Linked DNA regions of Homo sapiens: region 1 is linked to region 2. Evidence: fine-mapped expression QTL. A gene starts in region 2. The other region holds a variant in brackets. All regions are shown on one strand. Distances are between the middles of the regions. Region 1 overlaps TTC7B (tetratricopeptide repeat domain 7B). Region 2 holds the start of TTC7B (tetratricopeptide repeat domain 7B).

The links. PIP is the estimated chance that this variant, and not a neighbour inherited with it, causes the effect.
Region 1: its variant is fine-mapped to the expression of TTC7B in testis (GTEx, PIP 0.92).

What each region holds. Positions count from the first base shown.
Region 1 is chr14:90,532,957-90,538,322 of GRCh38, reverse strand. It overlaps TTC7B (tetratricopeptide repeat domain 7B), which reads left to right. Exons shown (of 20, transcript NM_001010854.2): 20 at 1-5,366. Among named protein-coding and RNA genes, the nearest start is that of LINC00642, 80 kb to the right of the region's middle. RefSeq lists enhancers at 3,787-4,617, 4,652-5,152. The variant C/T (reference allele first, on the strand shown) is at 2,470.
Region 2 is chr14:90,813,434-90,818,773 of GRCh38, reverse strand. TTC7B (tetratricopeptide repeat domain 7B) reads left to right here and starts at 2,344. Exons shown (of 20, transcript NM_001010854.2): 1 at 2,344-2,599. The coding sequence starts at 2,479. RefSeq lists a silencer at 2,171-2,350.

The sequences.
Region 1 (5,366 bases), 280 kb after region 2:
CATCCATCCATTCATCCGTCCACCCGTCCGTCCGTCCGTCCATCCATCCATCCATCCATCCATCCATCCATCCATCCATCCGTCCATCCATTAATAGATGAGGACGCAGACGCTAGACACTAAGACGGCAGGACACCTGCCTGGGGTCATTGTGGAATTACCTGGCAGAACTAAGATTGAGACAGGCCTGAGGGATAAACATTTCAAAAGTGCCCAGGTCTGCCCAGTGGAGGCATTTTTTGGACAGTGAGATGCAGGAGATGCCGCGTTTGATTCCAGGACTAGTGCTGACCCTAACTTAGGCAAGGCGTTCCTGTTCCCTGGTCTTAGTCTCCCCATCTGTGAAATTTCATTCATTCATTCACTCATTCATTCATCCAACAAATATCTATGGAATGCTCACAACATGCCAGATGCTTATTCCAGGCACTGAGGGCACAGCAATGTGTGACACAGATGCTGCATCCACTTAGGACCTACCTTCTGGTAGAAGGAAACAGACAGATGAGGAGTATGGCAGGTGGGGTGACGCATGGAGAAAGATGAAGCCAGGGAAGGGGTGTAGGGAGTGGCAGGGCTGCTGTTTAGAAGGTGACTAGGGAAGCCTCGCTAAGAAGGTGACATCTGGCTGAAGAAAGACAGGTAACCTGGGAGGAGGACATCTCAGGAAGCAGGAACAGCAGGTGCAAAGGCCCAGAGGGGAGGGGGATGGTCAGGTGGTGAAGGATGAGAAGAGGTCAGAAGTTTAACAGGGGCCACACAGGTGCGGCCTCGTGGACCATGCTAACAGTGTATATTAATTGCCTGTGGTTGCAGCAAATTACCATAAACTGGCTGGGCATGGTGGCTCCTGCCTGTAATCCCAGCACTTAGGGAGGCTGAGGCAGGAGAATCAGCTGAGGCCAGGAGTTCAAGACCAGCCTGGGCAACATGGTGAGACCCCCCCCCCATCTCTACAAAAAAAAAAAAATAGCCAGGTTTGGTGGCGTGCACCTGTAGTCCCAGCTGCTTGGGAGGCTGAGATGGGCTGATTGCTTGAGCCCAGGTGGTTGAGGCTGCAGTGAGTGATCACGCCACCGCAGTCCAGCCTGCATGAGAGAGCAAGACCCTATCTCTACAAATAAAATAAATTAAAAATTTTAAATGACCGCAAACTTAGCGTCTTAACACAAATTTATTCTCTTTGTTTTGGAGGTCAGAAGTCAAATCAAGCTTTCAGTGGGGCTGTGCTCCTTCCCCAGGCTCTGGAGGAGGACGGGTGTCCCCGTCTTCTCCAGCGGCTAGAGGCTTCCTGCGGCCTTGGCTCGTGGCCACCTCACGTCACCTTTCCTTCCTCTGCTCCGTCACTGCGTCACCTTTCTGCCTTTGACCTCCTGCCTCCCTCTAAGGACTCTGCTGGTTGCTCTGGGCCCCCTGGATAGTCCAGGGCCATTGCCCCACCTCGAGAGCCTTCGTTCAATCACATCTGCATCGCTCCATCTGTCATGGAAGGCAACATAGTCACAGGTTCCAGGGCTCGGGATGTGGACGTCTTTGAGGGGCAGGGGGAGCACGTTATTCTGCAGGCCGCAGCGTGGGAGCTGGGAGGCTGTCAGGCTCCTGCTGTCACACAGCGACCATGGTGCTTAGACCAAGGGGCGTGGAGGAAGTGGCGAGAGGCACTGGACTGTGAAGATTCTGAAGACAGAGCCAAGAGGGTTGCTCACACATGGAGCTGGGTGTGAGGGAGGGGAGACGCCAGGGATGAGGGTGAGGGTCTTGTCCTGAGCTACTGGAAGGATGGCGATGATGGCCAGGAAACAGGAAGAATAGGTTGGGGAGGAGAGGAGAAGGCAGGAGTCTGCTTTCAGGCAGGTTGAATACAAAATGCCTGTGGAGCCTCTGAGGGGGAGGCAGCTGGCTGGGCAGGAGCCCAGGCGAGAGCCCAAGATGAGGCGAGAGTGTGGGAGGTGTCAGGGATGCGGGGCTGGGAGCCATGGGCCTGACGGGGCCACTTCGGGACAAGCATAGACAAAGAGGAAGAGGTCAGGGCTGAGCTCCGGGGCTGGCGGGGTTTACAGGCTGGGAAATGAAGAGATCAGGAAAGAAGGCGCAGGAGCAGCTGCAAGGGAGGCGGAGAGCAGGCAGGGTGAGCTTCCTGGAGGAGGTGGGTGGGCTCTCTCAATGCCTGGAGACCCCGTCAGGGTGGCCTGAGAGCTGACCGTGGGCCTGGTGGTGTGCAGGTTGGCAGTGACCTTGACCAGAGCCATGCTGGGGATGCAGTTTTGCTCCCCCAGATTCATAGGGTGGAGCCCCCGCCCCTGTGTGACTATATTTGGAGATAGGCCCCTTAAGGAAGTAATTCAGGTGAAGTGAGGTCATCAGGAGGGGCCCTGGCCCAGTAGGATTGGCGTCCTCACCAGAAGAAACTCTAAAGTGCAAGTGAGCTCACGCTCAGCCACGCCAGGACACACGGAGAAGGCGGCCACC[C/T]GCAAGCCAGGAGGGAGCCTCACAGGAACCCAGATGGGCTGGAACCTTTGCTTTGTTCTTTGAACCTCCAGGACTGTGAGAAATTAAGTTCATTGTTGAAGCCACCTGTCTGTGGCGGTTTTCTTACGGCAGCCCAAGCTGACTAAGGTGGGGTCAAGCCAGGTTGGAGTGGGCTCAAGGGGGAGGAAAAGGTGAAGTCTCTTTCAAGAGCGTAGCTGCAGAGGGGAGCTGAGAACACAGGTTAGGAGTCCGGTGGGGAAGGGGCCGTGTTGAGTGTTGAAGGCGGCCTCGCTGAGCACCTTGTGTTTCCAGCAGGGCAGGCGTGAGGAAGGAGAGAGGGAAGCTGAGGGGGGCTGCCTTGGCTGGGGGCCTGGTGGTTCCCCAGAGCAGCAGCAGCAGGGAGGCAGAGGCCTGGGTACCCCCAAGCCAGGGAGCCCTGGGGACGGGGCACCCACTCCTCAGTGAGCAGGGAGCCAACTTCGGGCAGGGTGGGGTGGCGAATGGACCAGGAAGGGAAGGAGGAGGCAGAGGAGGGAGGAGGCCCTTCTTTGAAGGAGCCGCCCCACTCAGCCAAGAGGATCTCAGGACAGAGCCAGGCTGGGGGCCTGGGCAGGTGTGGCCGGGGCAGGCCACTTCCCATCCCCAGCCCCATTTGGGATCCATGGGCTCGTCTGTCTGTCTCTCTGCCTCCTTCCAGGTCCTGGGCCCTGGGCTGTGGCCAGGGCTCTGCTCACCCTCAGGGCTGCGTGGGGACCTCCCTCGGTGGGGAAAGGAGGGAACCAAGGCCTCCCGTTATCCTCCATGCCCCCTACCTGTGGTCATGGCCTGGGGGAGGTGCATGCTCGTGCACAGGTGGGCGTGTCTGTGATCACATGGAGCAACCCAGACTCCTCCAGATGGCCCCACGCATCTCCCCGGCGGCCACACAGTCATCATTGCGGGCCCAGACTCTCTGCCTGCAGGAAGTCCCCCCTTTGCAGGCACCCTCCCCATCATCCTTGGAGTTCTCCACGTCTGCCCTGTCCGTGCTGGGCCTGTCACCAGCCTGTCACCTGCTGCCCCAGCCCCAGCCCAGGTCCCTGCAGCACAGCCGGCTCCAGGCTGGAATGGGTGACCCGGCCCTACTGAAGGAATTTCAGGGCAGGGTCAGCCACTCTGGCCACTGTCTCCCTCCAATGCCCCCATACCCTCCCAGCGCTCGGCCCCTGCCACTCGGCCCCCTCTCTCCATATCGCCACCTTCTCATTCCTGCTCCTCCCCCACCACCTCTCAAGGCCGACAGGGTGGGCATTGCCCAGTGAGGGGACACCACTCATATTGAAGTTCTGTAAACTGTGTCTTGGGCACTGTACCAGGTGGCTGCTCCCATCCCTCCCCTAGCGTCTGCTTGCCCTGTCCATCCTGCCTACTCCAGAAGCAGCCACACACTTGACCATAAGCCTTTGAGGCCTGGCCGGAGTCCTCCGGGGGAGGCGGGCAGTAGCAGCCGCACTGGGCCTGAGGACCCCACACAGGAAAATGGGCCGAGCCCCAGGGCTGAGCCTTAGGGCTGCGGCCGTTCCCGCCACTAACATTCCTCCCACACTTGTGGTCATGCATTTCCTGCTGCCCCTGCCCACGCTGCAGCCAGATAGGAACAGAAAAAGGACATCCTGCACCATTTCAGACAGGAATGTGCTCCTCCTGAAGGTCTTTTGGGGGCCAGGCTGAGGCCCCCCCTCAAGGTCACACCGTGGGGGACCCACTCCAGCTCTGCACCTGCTGGGGGTGATCCTCACTGTGCCACTGTCCCTCCCTGGACTCAGAATCAGATGAGGACAGTCACCTCTGCCCAGCCTGCCTTCTGGGCTGAGATGTGAGTCTGCAGGCAGCTGTCAGAGGTGGTGTGTGCCAGGTAGGGGACACGAGGGCTACCGCCCCTCAGGACCACCACACAGGGCCTCAGGGCCAGGCCAGCAGGCAGGACTCCTCCTGGACACTCAAGCCCTGAGTGGGGCTGACTATGGAGAGGTGGCAGGAAGGTGGTGGGGGATCTTCTGCAGGTCTGCCTGGAGCCAGCAGCTCCCGCTGACCATCCGGGCCACCCACAGCCCCCACCACCCTCCTCGTCTCCCTCATCTTCTGCTGTTTGGCCCTTGACCCCCTGAGGACAATAGGGTTTCCTGGTGACCACTGGGCTGTGGGTCACACAGATCTGGCTGGAATCCCAGTTCTGCCTGGCCGTGTCACCTCTGATGGGGAAGCACTCTGTCTCCTCATCTCTATGGTCGGGGAGTAACTTCCCTTACGGGCTTTTGGGGATATTAACAGAGGTCAACCTGGACAGGGCATGGGGCCCCCGGGGTGCACCATAAAGTCTTTCCTTCTTTCTTCTATCCTCAGGCGAGGGGTGAGTGGCTGCTGGGACGTGCTGAGGGGTCCCTGAAGCAGGGCAGGAAGGGCAGAGCTAGCTGCAGCTGAGGCAGAGTCCGAGTCCCGCTCTGCATGGAGGAGGAGGTGAGGGGCCTGGTCAGCATGGGCATGGCTGGGGGCCTCTGTGACCGCCACCACTCTTGTCTTTGCCTCCTTGACCCCACAGGGTCATCCTCGGGCCCTGGGTCCAGCCAAGGCCTGAGGAGGGTCATGCATCCCTGTCCCACTTGGTCACAGCACAGGAGGCTCCCATCCGCCACTGCCTGAGGCGGTGCCTGTGGCCCAAGGGCTCGGGTTGTGGGCCTGCTGGGCTGGAGCCTGCATCGGGACCTGGCCACCTACTCTCCTAGGAGCCTTAGGTGAGTCACTAGTCCTCTCTGAGCCTCGGTTTCCTCATCTGTGAAATGGGGAGAACAAGGTGGTTGTAAAGATTCAGAGGGTGTGTAAAACACAAGCACATGGCCGAGCACAGCCCAGCCCTACCC
Region 2 (5,340 bases):
TCTCCTGTGGAGATTTCTTCTCCTTCCCTTCCTGCTCCCTCTTGGTGGGAGCTAAGGGCCAGGGCACTAAAGGGTCCCCTGTTGAAACTCTAACGTTCTAGTTCCCCTTTCCCTGGGCTGTTCACAGTGTCCAGGGCCTGTCAGCTCAACTTCCATCACCTTGGCAGTCCCTGAGGCACCTGAAAGTGATACTGGTCACATCAGAACACATCTCCTTATCTTTCCTCCTCACCTCTCTTAAATGTCTGTGATTCAGCCTCCTCATTGGTAAACTGAGGTCCACAGTGTGTGTTCTTCATCAACTCCGGTGGTGGGGGAGTTGTGGTGGGGATAAGAACCTGCGTGTGACTGCTCTTGGAAAGTTGGAGTAAGGGCACCCAGAAGGAATGACGACGACCCCTCAGTGCCTCCTTGTGACTGCGGGCGGGCTACGGAACCTTCCAGACTGACCGCTTCACTCTCAAATGCAGGACCCAGAATCCAACACTGCCACCACCACAGCTATTTCCCTGGCAGTATTCTCAACACTGCAGTCACAGTGATAGTCCAAAGTGTAGGTCTGATCATGCCACTCTTCCGTGAAAAGCCCTGCAGGGCTGCTCCATGTCACCAGAGTAAAAGTCAAAGTTTTTTTTTTTTTTTTTGAGACGGAGTCTCTCTCTGTTGCCCAGGCTGGAGTGCAGTGCTGCCATCTCAGCTCACTGCAAACTCCGCCTCCCGGGTTCACACCATTCTCCTGCCTCAGCCTCCCCAGCAGCTGGGACTACAGGCGCCTGCCACCACGCCCGGCTAATTTTTAAAAATATTTTTAGTAGAGACGGGTTTCACCATGTTAGCTAGGACGGTCTCGATCTTCTGACCTCGTGATCCGCCCACCTCGGCCTCCCAAAGTGCTGGGATTACAGGCGTGAGCCACCGTGCCCAGCCAAAAGCCAAGGTCTTATAATGGCCCACCAGGCACTACACAGAACTCCCCCCAACCTCTCAGAGTTCATCTCCTGCCTCGGCCCCTCTCCTTCGCTCCACCCAGCCCCTCTGGCCTCTGCCATTTCTCCATCCCACCCAGTGTGCTCTAACCCCAGAGCCTTCGCACTTGTGGTGTTCTCTGCCTGGGATACTCCTCCCCCAGAGATATCCTCATGGCTCCCCCTTAGTTTCTTCAAGTCTAATGCCACCTCCGTGAGGCCATCCCTGACTGCTCCATTTTAAATGGCAACACTTGCTCAGGCTGAAGTGCGTTCACTGCTCACTGCAGCCTCCACCTTCTGGGCTCAAGCAATCATCCTGCCTCAGCCTCCTGAGTAGCTGGGATTACAGGCATGAGCCACCCGCCTGTCCCAACTCTTTATGTTCCTCACTGAACCCTTCCCTGTTTCTTCAAATAGCCATTTTTACAGTCTAGTTTACTATTTTATTTTGCTTATTTTTCCCCCAAACTGGAATGTAAGCTCTCTCAAGCCAGGAATTTTGTTTTTTTAGCTCACAATTCTATCTCTGGCACCTAAAGCAGCGCCCAGCACATAGTAGGTGATCACTAGACAGTTGATTCACTGAGAGAACACAGAGGGACACCTCCCTAGGTCTCAGTCTAGGTGGCCAAGACAGGAGGCCCCACCAGTGACTGTGCCTTCCCCTCAGGGGGTCCGAGAGCTGGCGTGTGAGAGTGGCAGCCCCTGCCTGGCTCCGCTCAGCCATCTAGGGCACCCCTGGCAGGTGCTGTGCCTTGCCTGGGATGGAGGAGTCTCCGTCCACCTCTGGCTGGGTAGGGGCTAAGGCTGCGGGGCAGAGGGGCATCTGCTAAGGGGCACAGGCCAACCGGGCCCCAGGGAACCGCTGGCCACCTGAGATGGCAGGACAAACTCGGGCAGGCCTCCCCCCACCCCTCACACCTGGCTCACTGGTCCCACCGGGCGGTGACCTTCCCCAGGGTCACTGCCCTTTCTTGGCCCTACTCCTGGGGATCCAACCCGCTCCCAGGCTGTCGCTAGCTCCCTCCCGATCCTCTCCCTCCCCTTCATCCTGCCCAGACCCCTACCCCACCAGACCCCTCACCCGCCCTTGGTCAGATCTCTCTCCTACCCCGCTCCCCCACCCCCATCCCCACTTCCCCTCGGTCTTCACCCCGCCCCAGACACCCCCAGTCCCTCTCCCTGTCCTCCATGCCCACCCCGCCTTTCCTCCCTCGGGCCCCTGTCTCCCGCCCTAGCCCCCGCCCCTGCCCCAGCCCTGGCTCCGGCCCCGGTCAGTGCTGCGGCTCCGGCCCTGGCCGGCAGGGGCCGCTCCTCGCGGCGCCCGGGGCCCCGCCGCGCCCGCCGCCGCCGCCCGCCTCCCCGCCCCTTCCCCAGCCGGCGCTCCCGTTACGCCGCGGAGCCGGGAGCCGGAGCCCGAGCCCGCGGCGGCGGCGGGAGGCGGCGAGGGGGCGCCGCGGCGGCGGCGGTGGGGCCTGCGGGGCGGGCGGCCGGGCCCGGCCAGGCCGCGATGGCGACCAAGAAGGCAGGCTCGCGGCTGGAGACGGAGATCGAGCGCTGCCGCTCCGAGTGCCAGTGGGAGCGGATCCCTGAGCTCGTCAAGCAGCTGTCGGCCAAGCTCATCGCCAACGGTACGCTCCGGGCGCGCCGGCCTGGGCTGCGGGGGGCGCCGCGGCCTCCGCGGGAACGGGCCCCCGAGGCGCGGCCGGGCGCGGGGCGCGGGCAGGGGCGCGGCCGGGCCGCGAGGGAGCTGCGGCCCAGGGGATGTGCGCGGGACCGGGGCCTGGGGGAGCCCGGGTGCCCCGGAGTCACGCGGTGTGGGGGCCCGGGGGGGCGCCAGGGGCTGTCCCGGCGCCTGGGGTTCAAGCGTGCAGGGCGGGCTTCTGCGGAGTCTGGGGTGTCCGGGGGTCTCAGCGAGTCCGCTGCTCCACTGGGACCACAGGAGGTCAGGGGCCGGCCTGGGGCTTCCAAGAAGTTGGAGGTGATGGGGTGAGGGGGTCCCTCAGGACATGGGTGAAGTCCACAGTGTGTGTATGGTGTGCTCAGGGAATCAGGATGTGTTTATGGGGTCTTGAGAATGGGGTGTTGTACATAGACCCCTGGGGAATCTGGTTTGTAAACATATGGTGTTTAAGGGGTTCTGGGTGGAAGCGCAGACTCGAGGTGTGTGGGGTGGTGGTAGAAAGCAGGCTGGGATGTGCGTCCTGGCGTTCGGAGAAGTAGCATCAAGGCTGCCGACCTAGAGAGGTCAGGGTTGGGAATAGAGGAGAAATAGAGTCAGGGGGACCTGGAGGGAGAATATTGTGGAGCGAGATGGGAATGTGGTTGAAGAATGTCGGGAGATGGAGTTGGGTGGGTGAGGGGTTGGTGCCTGGGCCAGAAGGGGGTCTGAGGCAGCCTCTGAGTAGGAGCCTGGTGCCTGGAGTTGGTTCATGACCCCTTTAACTGGATTGGTTCTTGTACCCAATCAAATAAAATTGCATCCAGAATCCCATTCCAGTGCACAGCTCCACGTGGCCTTATTTGTTTTGGAAGCGAGTATCTTTAATATTTGCTTGTCTTTTAGTACCCGCCTAAAGCGCAGGCACCAGCACACCGTGGCCAGAGGGCAGAGGGTTTGTCTCATTTCATCCTGGGCTTCCCCAGGCCCAGTGAGCACATGTTGGCTGAACAAATGAATGAAAGAGTGAATGAATGGATGGCGGGGCTGCTCTAAGAAAGGACATCTGCACTATTTTCAACCTTCTCACTTCAGACTACCCAGAAAGGAGAGGGATGTCAGGTGTCCTCCTGGAGGGTGGTTTATGTTTGTGTCCTATGGTATTAGTGCCTGGAAATTAGAACTTGGTTTTGCGCACTCTCAATGATGGATGCATGCTGTGGGCAGGTACCTTCTGGGTGAACGCAGGTGCCATGGTGTGTCAGGGGCATGGAGATAGCACCGACCCTACACGGGCTCCACTTGGTGGAAAATGTGGACCCTTCTCAGTTATGTCAGCCTTTGAGGAGATGGTGTTCAGTGCCCTGGGCCCCAGAGGCAGCTTGCCTTTGCCCTCCGTGTCGGGCTCACCTGCTTCTCCGCTTACCTGCAGCATTTTCTCTTTTCCTCTCGGAGTTGCACAGTCCTGGGTCTACTTTGTGGCTTCCCAGCGGTGTAGGCATAATGACACCTTCTGTGCAGGTTGATTTTAGGATTAAATGGGTTTATTTGTGAGCCTCCTGGTCTTTTTTCTTCTGAATCCACTTGTTTCCTGCTGTCTTTGCTTATTCATTCACCCAATATTTGCGTGCCCACCTGTGCCAGTCACAGAACAGTGGTGAACAGCACTGACCAAGCCCCTGCCCTTATGCCCTCACCCTGCTCTCAGGAGGCAGGTGATAAGCAAATATGGAAATAAATAAACAGCACAGCTTCAGATAGTGAGAAGTGATTGAAACAAAACAGATGAGTTAATGTGATTGAGAATGACAGGCAGATGAAGGGGGACTCAAGCTATGATGGTCCCTGGAATGAGAGGGTAGATGGGTTTTTGGTGGCCTGGGCCCTTCCTATTCACCTTCATGGCCCCCGAAAGGCTTAGCTCTCTTCCCAGGGGCTGCTCCCAATGTCCTAAGATGCAGTCATGAGTGGGGCTTGGGGATCGGGGTTTGCGGGGGCACTGTGGTCCATGGGTCTGTGTGCAAGTTCAGTTTGGGGAAACTCATGGGACATAGATTTTTGTCCTAGAGACTCACATGGTGAGTGGTAGCCATTGATGGCAAAAAGTTACCCGGACTTGAAAAGATCAGACAGAGTGAGTGCTCAGGAAAATAAAACGATGAAGCCAAGAAAAAGATGAAACTAAACTAGAATGATTGTGGCTCTCCTTTGGTGTTTGCAAGAGGGGCCTTCCCTCCGTTTGACTGGTGAGGCCTTCCCACTCTCGGGCTGGTAGAGGGACTTCTTCCTGGCTTTTGGGGGCACCGGCTCCCCCATAGATTCTCGGGTGCATGAGCACAAGTTCTGGGCAGATTTTGCAAAATCCTGAAGTTAAAGCATCTTCTGCTTAGAATAAGGAAAGCAAGTGAATGTCACGTTTGTCACACTAAGACAGTTACCATGAAAACAACCACAGGCGAAAAAAAAAAAAAAAGAATACAGTGTTTGGAGCCAGCCAGATGGGGGACTGATTCTTGTGACCTTGGCCACTTCTTGACTTTGTGACATTGGCCAAATCACTTAACCACTCTGAGCCTCAGTTTTCTCATTTTAGAACGGGATTTAAATGACTTACCTTGCAGGGGTTGTTATGAGGGTTAAAGTAGCTAATGTCTCTCAGGGCCAGCCACTCATTCCTTCCTTCCTTCCACAAAGATTGAGTACCTGCTCTGT